Homo sapiens: one gene and its partner. The protein of the gene in region 2 purifies or fractionates together with the protein of the main gene of each other region. This does not show direct contact. Each region holds a gene or a part of one and is shown on either strand. Other genes may lie near its edges.

The links.
Region 1: the proteins of UGT1A7 (region 2) and GLB1L2 purify together in Homo sapiens (affinity purification with mass spectrometry; one large-scale study listed by BioGRID and IntAct). This does not show direct contact.

Annotation. Positions count from the first base shown.
Region 1 is NC_000011.10:134,330,780-134,335,343, reverse strand, and holds the start of GLB1L2 (beta-galactosidase-1-like protein 2 isoform b precursor), read right to left. Parts: upstream 3,357-4,564; 5' UTR 3,283-3,356; coding exon 3,197-3,282; intron 1-3,196.
Region 2 is NC_000002.12:233,680,129-233,685,316, forward strand, and holds the start of UGT1A7 (UDP-glucuronosyltransferase 1A7 precursor), read left to right. Parts: upstream 1-1,772; 5' UTR 1,773-1,809; coding exon 1,810-2,664; intron 2,665-5,188.

The DNA.
Region 1 (4,564 bases), on a different chromosome or scaffold from region 2:
AATAGGCAAGGCCCATAAAATCAATTACCTCCCAGAAGCTCCAGAGGAGAGGCATGATTTGGCCACATACCCTTGGAAGACAGGACTGGCCATGATTCACATAAAAAAAAAAAAGTGACCTGCATTGCTAAGTTAGCCACCTTGTTCAGGAGAAAGAGTTTGATACATCTCCTCCTTTTCCTTTCTATAGGAAGAATTTGGGGTCTGGAATAAAGAAAACAGCAGGGCAGGGCAGTGTGTGAGACGGACCTCAGAGAAGAAATGAACTTACCTCTTAGGAGCATGATGCTGGCTGCCCACATGAAGGCTTTCCCCTCTCCCAACTTTCCCAGCTAAAATTTCAGGTATGAGAGATGCAGCGTTGCCTGTATTCTTGCTCGGTGATTCATTTATATTAAGGAAAAAATCATGAATGAGAACCATGCCTTTAGATAATATCAAGCAGGCATTCTTGTGTTCATGGAGTGCGAATAGGAAGAGAATGAAAGGCAACTGGCTCAAAGGCACGGTTCGCACTGATACGTGCATCGCAGACCTCAAAATAATACTCTGAGTGAAAGAAGCCAGACCAAAAAGGAAAACATGCTTTAAGATTACAATTCTATAAAACACTAGAAAATGCAAACCAATATATCGTGTCGGAAAGCAACAGATCAGTGGTTGCTTGGGGCTGGGGAGCAGGGAGGAGTAGGAGGGAGGGATGACAGAGAGGTACATGGAAACTTTGGGGGCTGGTGGCTGTTTTCACAATCTTAACTGTGGTGATAGATTCACAGCTGGATTTAGATATGTGTCAAAGCTTATCAAATTGTACATATTAATTAAACTCCAATAAAGGTAATTTTTAAGAAAGACCACTGTTTACGCTTAAAAAAAATAAAAATAAAAATTCTAAGACTGAAATCCTCCCCAAAAGTCAACCTGGTCATCCTAGTCTTTTGATATGATGTAACCCACCAGCTATGACTGACCGTGAACCAGCCCAAGGAAAAGTTGATGAAAAAAAAGAAAAGCTATAGCCAAACATCCCCCAGCCCATGCCAGCCACTGTCCAAATACCTGCCTTCTGCTACAGGAAAGGGGCTGCTCCTGACAGCTCGGCTCCACAAAGAGTGAACTTGGTGGCCAGTTTCCACGTGACCTATATTCCACTGGCCACCTCAACACTGCCCAGTAACAGCTGGGAGAGGCCCCACCTCCCACTCAGTTAATGACCCAGTCAGAGCTGGGGCAAGACAGGAAGAGGGAAAGACAAAGAGGATGTTCTCCTCCTGCCTCCAGAGATATTACAGCAACTCATACTCACTGGTGTCCAGCCCAAGTCAGACAGGAGGAACTGGCAGAATGTACCCATGAGGGTGAAAAAATCAAAAAGATGCCAAAAAGACACGTATTCCACAGGATCTGAAGACACGGCCCTGAACTTGGTTCAGAGCTCCTTGAGCTTCTGTTCTACCTGCTAGAAGGATGGAGAGGCAAGAAAAACATCCTTCCCAGGCAGGCCAAACTGTTTTCACAGAATTTGGTTGCAGCTCTTTATTCTCTGTTGCCATTCCACCTGCTCCAATGGCCCAAGACTGACTCCTAGTGCGGTCACCCCACCTAGGTGGGGACACAGTTACCTCACCTCAAAGAAGCTCAGGCGTCTTCCCAGCTAGGTCAGCTCCCTGCCACCTCACCTCTGTCCCACCAAACAATAACAAACCCTCAGCCTCCTTCGCATACCTTTTCCTGGGGACTTTTTGGGTGTACCACTCAGCCCATCTCAAGCCCACAGTGCTGCCCCAAATAGTGACCTGCCTGGGTCCCCTGCACGGACTCCTGTATCCCTGACCAACAACAGGCCTGCAGCCGCTAGCCTTTCTCTTGGCAGCTTGCACGCCTTGCTACCCTGCTGTATGCAGGAGGATCTGCTGCCGCTGCTCTGAGTAATTCTTCTGGGGTTTGCGTAAGCCTTGCACAGGGAGGAAAGCTGAGCATCCCACAGGAGCCAGGGCCAATCTTCAGAGAGGAATGGCTTAGAGATCTTAGGCAGGACAGAAAACATCTTGGGAACAACCGGAGAAGTTAAATGCCTGAAGTTTTCTGGGCCCCAGAATGAGAAGAAAATCCGTCCTTCTCCCAAACAATATCATGACGTCCCCACTATCTCAGAAACAAGAATCCAGTCTTGACAAGGTGTAAACATAGAGTTTGTCAGTGTGTTCTTCTGGCCACAAAGGACTTCCAGATATTTATCTCCATCAAAAACTTCCCTGTCTCCCAGGGGAAGTGCAGAGAAACTAAGAACTTAGTTTCTCTAAGTAAAAAAGAAGCAAATGACAAAGCCGAGCGGCGTAGGGCCTGCCACCACTTCCAACCGTTCAGTTCATTCGATACTGCCGGTCGGCTTCCCACTGGAGGTTTTGAATATGGAAAGTGCTGACCTGAAAGATAGGGTCAGGGCTGTAGAATCCTTAAAATAAGCACAGTTTAGAAAAATGCTGGGCTAGGGCACCCAGAAAACTTTTTCACAGGCTGTGGGTAAATCACAGTATCACTGAAGCCACTCCTTTGCCATAAACAACATTTGGAAAAGGGGGAGAGGAAAGGGTGAGCTGGTAACAGGTGAATGGTGGGAAAGTGGAGAGAGACGACCTATCAGTCCTACTGTGCAAATAAATCATGGCCCGGGATCTTGGAGGCCCACGGACACTGTTCTTACGACCCTGCCAGGCCAGCTGGCTAGACCATACCTGCCAGGCTGAAGCGCCGGCCTCTGCGGAATAAGGCGCCTCCCAGAGGCTTGGGAGGAAAAGGGGGGCCTGGGGGAAGGGCAGAGGGAGCTCTCCGCGGAGCAGTGGGGACGGGGCCGCGATGGGGTGCGTCTGAGAGGGCTCTGACGGCTGGAGGGCTGCGGGCGTCCACGGGGGGCAGAGCCCGGCGTCACAGGCGCGGCGGGGTGGGCGGCTCGGGGCACAGACGCCGGCTCCCGAGGGCACGCCGGGTGTCGCCCAGAGGCCTGGATCGCGCGGCAGGAGTAGAGTGCCTGCAGCCGCAGGGGAACTCGGGGGTATTGGGGAGCTCCCAGAAAGAAGCAGCTGGGGCTGCTCCCCCCGGGAACTCGGGATTCGCGGGTCGCGGGAGGAGAGAACCCGAGGTGCGGAGGGCTGGGGAATGTGGGGTCCGGCAGGTGCTGCGCGAAGCTCTCTCTCACCTGCGGAGCACCAGGAAGCCCAAGACGACCAGCAGCAGGAGTCCCAGCGTGCGGGCCGGCCTCCGCCGGAGGCTCCACGTGGTCATCGCGTGTTCTCTAAGCGCGGGGACCCGGGTTCCCACTCCAGTCCGCACTCAGCCGCGCGCGGGAGCCTCGCCGCGGGGGGCGGAGCCGCGCACTGGTCGCCTGGGCAACCGGCCCGCCGGCGCTCATTGGCTGGGGCTCGCGGCTCCGCGCCTGCAGCCCTAGGCCTCGCGCAAGCGGGGGCGGGGCTGGCCGGGGCCGGGGCGGGGCCTCTGTCGGGGGGGGGGCGGGGCGGGGCTGGTGGGCGGGGACGAGGTCTCGGTAGGAGAGGGGGCTGGCGGGGGCGGGGCTGGCGGGGCGGGGCCCCGGCCGGGGGCGGGGCGGGGACAAGGTCTCGGTAGGGGACGGGTCTGGCCGGGGCGGGTCCCCAGTGTCGTGGAGCGGTGCAGAGTCCGCCGTCTTTCTGCTCGCGAGGCGCAGGCGGGTGCGGGAATGCTGCGTACCTGTCAAACGCCGAGGTAAAGTCGCCCCTCGCAGCGCTACATCAGGAAGAACGTACAAAAGGCGTCCGCAAAGCAGGGGCAACCAACAGAATCTTTTAAAACAATTCAGATTCTGAAGCAAACAACTTTTTCAATAACAAATCATCCTGTGAAAAGCCAGGATTTTGAAGAATTGTATCTGGACACATTTCAGTGTGGTTCATGTCTGAGGAGGGGGGGTTCCAAATATTTTCTGTCTTTGGTTTCTGCGAGTCTTACTCTGGCCTTGACTCCAAGGGCTTCCAATTTTTTATTTTAAAAAGGTCCATATAAAACTCTCACATTTTAGGAAAGGAAGAATATCATTCTTATTCTGAAACAGAATGTATGTCCCAAAGAACATGATGTAGTATTTCGGTGCAACTTACACTGTAGCAATCACAAACCCAACTCCTCCCGGGAACAAAATTCAGATTTTACTGAAAGAAACTCGAGGAAGGGCAACGTTTTCCAGAGCATCCGGGTTTGTCGAATGTCTCCCTTGCCGCATGCTTTGAATTCATTTCCTAAACGGGGGCATAGTTTTGAACTTGTAAAGCCGACAGGAACCAAATGAAATTGCAGATCTTGGAACAAAGACACAGACTTGGGTATGAAGTGTCCTTTGTCTAGCGTTAAGCACATATTTAGTCAAGGAGCAAAAGTTAAATCAAAGAGAGGCAAAAACAAACGAACAAACAAGAGGAAAAAAACCCTGGCAGAACTGGGGAGGATAAGCTGGGCTTGGAGCAATCCGGGTCTGACTTAAGCACCGCAAACATTCCCAGAGGCGCGCAGAGGGAGGCCCACTCCCGTGGACGCG
Region 2 (5,188 bases):
CAAGTAATTCAAGTTTTTTTGGTAATGTCATGATTTTTCTTTGCTTCTTGGGAGTACTTGCAGCATCATTAGTTGCACTTTATAGTCCCATGGTGGTATTCAAGGTTTAAAAAATTACACTAAACATGATGAAAAATACAGTAGAACCATAAGAGATCATTTTTTACTCTGACATGCAATTTACTAGAGAGAAGAAACGCGCAGAGGGTATAAACGTCATATCACATGCATTTAGGCCACACTTTAGCTCCCTGCAATAGCAACAGGAGGTAGCAACAAAATTATTATAGTAGTGTAGTATGTACTAGAGGAAAGTGACTAAGCAAATGTCTAGTACCAGTTAGGGTGTCCTGGAAGGAACCATCTTGTGCTTCTACAAGAATTATGCCCTGAGGTTGGCTGTTGAATCCCTCACGAAATGCTCCTCAGTGTGTTGCCTAACACACACTGCTGAGCTCACCCATTAAAATCTGCATGATGGAATTCAGCCCAATGCAATGAGAATTCCCATGGACTTCCTCTGTGCAAGGCAAAGCATGGGTGCTGTGGAAGGAGGATGAAAACAGGTAGAAGATGTAATCTCATCCTCAAGGGGTGCTCGGTAGAATGGAGGAAACAATACATAGATTCCTGAAGATGAGCACCAAAGTGATTGGGGTGGGCCCATAGCAAAGGCCTGCAGCTCTGTTCAGAATGCAGAAGCAGAGTGGGCAGAGAGAGACAGCTCATTAGAGTGCTTGGGCAAGCATAGGGACGGCGACTCACCACTGCAGACAATGTATCTGAGGAAAGCCATTTAAAATAGGTGACAGTCACATTCCATCAAATTTCTGGAAGGGTCCATGGAGGCAGGGTTGTCAATCTCATTACAGCATTTCAGAGGCCTCAGAAGATTTGGAAATGAAAAAAGACAAGCAGCACTTGTGGCTCACCTGTGTCACAATTGTGGCTCACCTGTGTCTCTGCAATGCGCAAGTGAGCTGTGTATTGCAGAGACACAGGTGAGCCGCAATTTCCTCCCAGTTAGGAGGTCAACGCTAAGACCCTTGCTCTCTTTCCGTCGAACATGAGATGCCAATTTCTTTCTGGGCAGAGGACAAAATAAAAATTGTCTATAAACTTTGGCCAGGTGTAGTGGCTCACGCCTGTAATCCCAGCATTTTGGGAGGCCGAGATGGGCAGATTGCCTGAGCTCAGGAGTTCGAGACCAGCCTGGGCAACATGGTGAAACCCCGTCTCCACTAAAATACAAAAAGTTAGCTGGGCATGGCAGCGTGCGCCTGTAATCCCAGCTACTGAGGCTGAGGCAGGAGAATCGTTTGAACCCAGGAAGTGGAGGTTGCAGTGAGCCTAGATCTTACCACTGCACTCCAGCCTGGATGACACAGTGAGACTCCATCTCAAAAAAAAAAAAAAAAAAAAAAAATTGCAAATTTTTCTTTGTGACAAATTCCAAAATTATTAGCTTCGTTCAAATTTACTTTCCTTTTTATCTTTCAATGTCGTCAAGGCCAAAAGCATTGCTTAATAATTTTGTTTCTAAACTCATATTGCAGCACAGGGCATGATCTGTCCCCAAGGCAAAGATGATGAGTTACTCTTTTCTTGAAAACATATAAGCAGGTATCTCAGCAAAGGCTACTCATGTATTATTATGAGTAAATCATTGGCAGTGAATGTGAATTTTTTTTTAAATGAATGAATAAGTACACGCCTTCTTTTGAGGGCAGGTTCTATCTGTACTTCTTCCACTTACTATATTATAGGAGCTTAGAATCCCAGCTGCTGGCTCTGGGCTGAAGTTCTCTGATGGCTCGTGCAGGGTGGACTGGCCTCCTTCCCCTATATGTGTGTCTACTGCTGACCTGTGGCTTTGCCAAGGCAGGGAAGCTGCTGGTAGTGCCCATGGATGGGAGCCACTGGTTCACCATGCAGTCGGTGGTGGAGAAACTCATCCTCAGGGGGCATGAGGTGGTCGTAGTCATGCCAGAGGTGAGTTGGCAACTGGGAAGATCACTGAATTGCACAGTGAAGACTTACTCAACCTCATACACTCTGGAGGATCAGGACCGGGAGTTCATGGTTTTTGCCGATGCTCGCTGGACGGCACCATTGCGAAGTGCATTTTCTCTATTAACAAGTTCATCCAATGGTATTTTTGACTTATTTTTTTCAAATTGCAGGAGTTTGTTTAATGACCGAAAATTAGTAGAATACTTAAAGGAGAGTTGTTTTGATGCAGTGTTTCTCGATCCTTTTGATGCCTGTGGCTTAATTGTTGCCAAATATTTCTCCCTCCCCTCTGTGGTCTTCGCCAGGGGAATATTTTGCCACTATCTTGAAGAAGGTGCACAGTGCCCTGCTCCTCTTTCCTATGTCCCCAGACTTCTCTTAGGGTTCTCAGACGCCATGACTTTCAAGGAGAGAGTATGGAACCACATCATGCACTTGGAGGAACATTTATTTTGCCCCTATTTTTTCAAAAATGTCTTAGAAATAGCCTCTGAAATTCTCCAAACCCCTGTCACGGCATATGATCTCTACAGCCACACATCAATTTGGTTGTTGCGAACTGACTTTGTTTTGGAGTATCCCAAACCCGTGATGCCCAATATGATCTTCATTGGTGGTATCAACTGTCATCAGGGAAAGCCAGTGCCTATGGTAAGTTATCTCCCCTTTAGCACATTAAGAATAATCTGGCTTTGGAAATTAAAAGATTTCTTACAGAATCATAATTTATCATTTACATTTGTCCCATTTGGAATTTCTTTCTGGTTTAAGGAATTCTTTTGTACCAATTCACTTAATTGTTGGGTAGCAAATTGTATAAAGCAGCTCTTGTTGATATGTAAGTGTATACAATTGATATAATTGTAGATCATATCTAGGCTGCAATCTAAATGCTATTTTTGGAAAAATACAAAAAAACCACAGTAAGAAATGAAACTTCCCTTTTTTTGCTAATTCTACACTACCCCCAGAGGAAAATATTCTTAGCAGTTTTGTGTGAATTGTTTTCAATTTTTTTGAAATTATACTATGTATATGCATATATTTAGGGTAAATTGTCACTTCTATTTTATCAATATAAAATCTACTATCATGCTGGCTATGTTTTTTTATGTTAGATTTTTCTCTTGTCAATAAGTTAAAGATATCTTTACAGGTCAATGCATACAGATTTGACATGTTCTTTTAATAATTGCATGGTAGTCTTTACTTTGGATGCAATGTAGTTTTCCAACCAATTAAGATTGATAGAGATTTAAGTGTTTTCCACTTTTGGGGTTTATGAGCAATAATAAGAATTCTTGTATACTTTCTTTACATTATATATATTTTCATATTTTTGCTTTTATCTCAGTAGGGTATCATCCTATGAGTATGGTTGCTTGGTTTTCACTAAATGAGTGAGATTGGCCTTCTTTTGCTATTACATCTTCCTACTCAAGAATATGAATCCCTCATTATTTATTCGGATTCTGTTTTATTTCCATAAATAAAATTTTGCACTTTATAAAAGTATTTCATCTTTCTTATTAACCTTTATTCCTCTGCATTTCATTATTTTTGAAACCATTATGTGCAAGGCAATTTTCCCATTTCTCTTTTGAATTCACTATGCATAATTAATGTACTGCTTTGAGTTTTACACATTTATCTTGTATGTAGTCATATTACTAAACTCTCGTATTAGTATGTAAGGTGTATTAAGTATGCAATATCATCTGCAAATTATTCCCTCCCCTGGTATTTATACCTCTTATTTTGGCGGAGCATATAGTTCCAAAATATTATTAATATTGTTGGTCTAGCCAGCTTAAATTAGGATTTGGTCACTTGCAATTGAAAAAGTCGTGACAAATACAAGAGTAAGATTCTTGGCAAATGCATAGTTGCTAAATCCAGGTGAAACACCTGGTGTCTGATCTAAGTATATTATTTTGTTAGGGATGGAGTATACATTTTTATCTATTGTTCTGGCTTCTTACAAAGTTCAGTAGACTTTGTAACACAGTCACATTCTCTCTCATATTGGCAGATGTTTGGTGAAAGAGTGACTGTTCAACCAACTCATGGGAAAATGCAACCAAGCGCTTTCTAAAAATCAGGGAGACTACAGTTGTAGGCCTTTCAAATGAAACATGACTTTCAGCTCTTGGCAAGACCAGGCGAGGAGATGCAAGTTGTAGGACGCTAAGAGGATAGACTTGTCAAAGTGTCTCTCCCCTGTTTACCCTCCATCAATTACAGCACCAGCCATCACTCAGGTATTGCCTGCAGCCTCACCCTCTAGCCAAGTGTGTGGCCTGCCACTTTCTGAACCCATGCTGAGTTTGTTGTGGCTCAAAGGGTCACCCAAAGGGATTTAGAGATGTAGAAATTATATATGATTCTATACCACCTATAATGGTATATGATAGAGAGATCTATAAAATATGAAACATTGAGCCATATATAGTTTTACATATTTTGGTTATTTGTATATCTTCAGTGGTGTATAAAATATATGCATTTATATGCCTTTAAGGAATATACATATGATAGGATTTATAGATGTGGAAGGTTATGTATTAATGTATATATTTATAAATAGAAAATAAATATAATTATCAAAGAAGAATTCAGATCATAAAGAGTGCCCTTTGGCAAAGAGCCCTGGATATGGCTCAACCACAAAAGTAAATTGTCATAGAAAAATTTATGGACACTGTATAGTGTTCCTTTCTTGTTTCATATGGGCAGGGTGTGTCTTGGAAAAGTATACAGTTTTTTGTACCTTGTTAGACAACAGGATTCATAGTCTGCATTTCATCTGTCTGATGAAAAGAAAGCATTGCTTGATGATGCAGTGTGTGTGTATGTGGTGTTTGTGCACGTATGTGTCTGTATGTGCAGGTGTGTTTGTGTGCAATGTCTTAAGCTCTGCACAGGAGATTTTTTTTCTGAAAGGTTTCCTATAACAAAATCTTATTGAGTCTATCCAGGTGAATTACATCCAGGGATGTAATTAAATACTTTAACAAGGATGGTAGATCATCATTCAGGAGAACATTAAAACGGTTTTGTTTTGTATTTTTAATAGAGACGGGGTTTCACCATGTTGGCCAGGCTGGTCTCTGACTCCTGACCTCAAGTGATCCGCCCGCCTCCGCCTTTCAAAGTGTTGAGATTACAGGTGTGA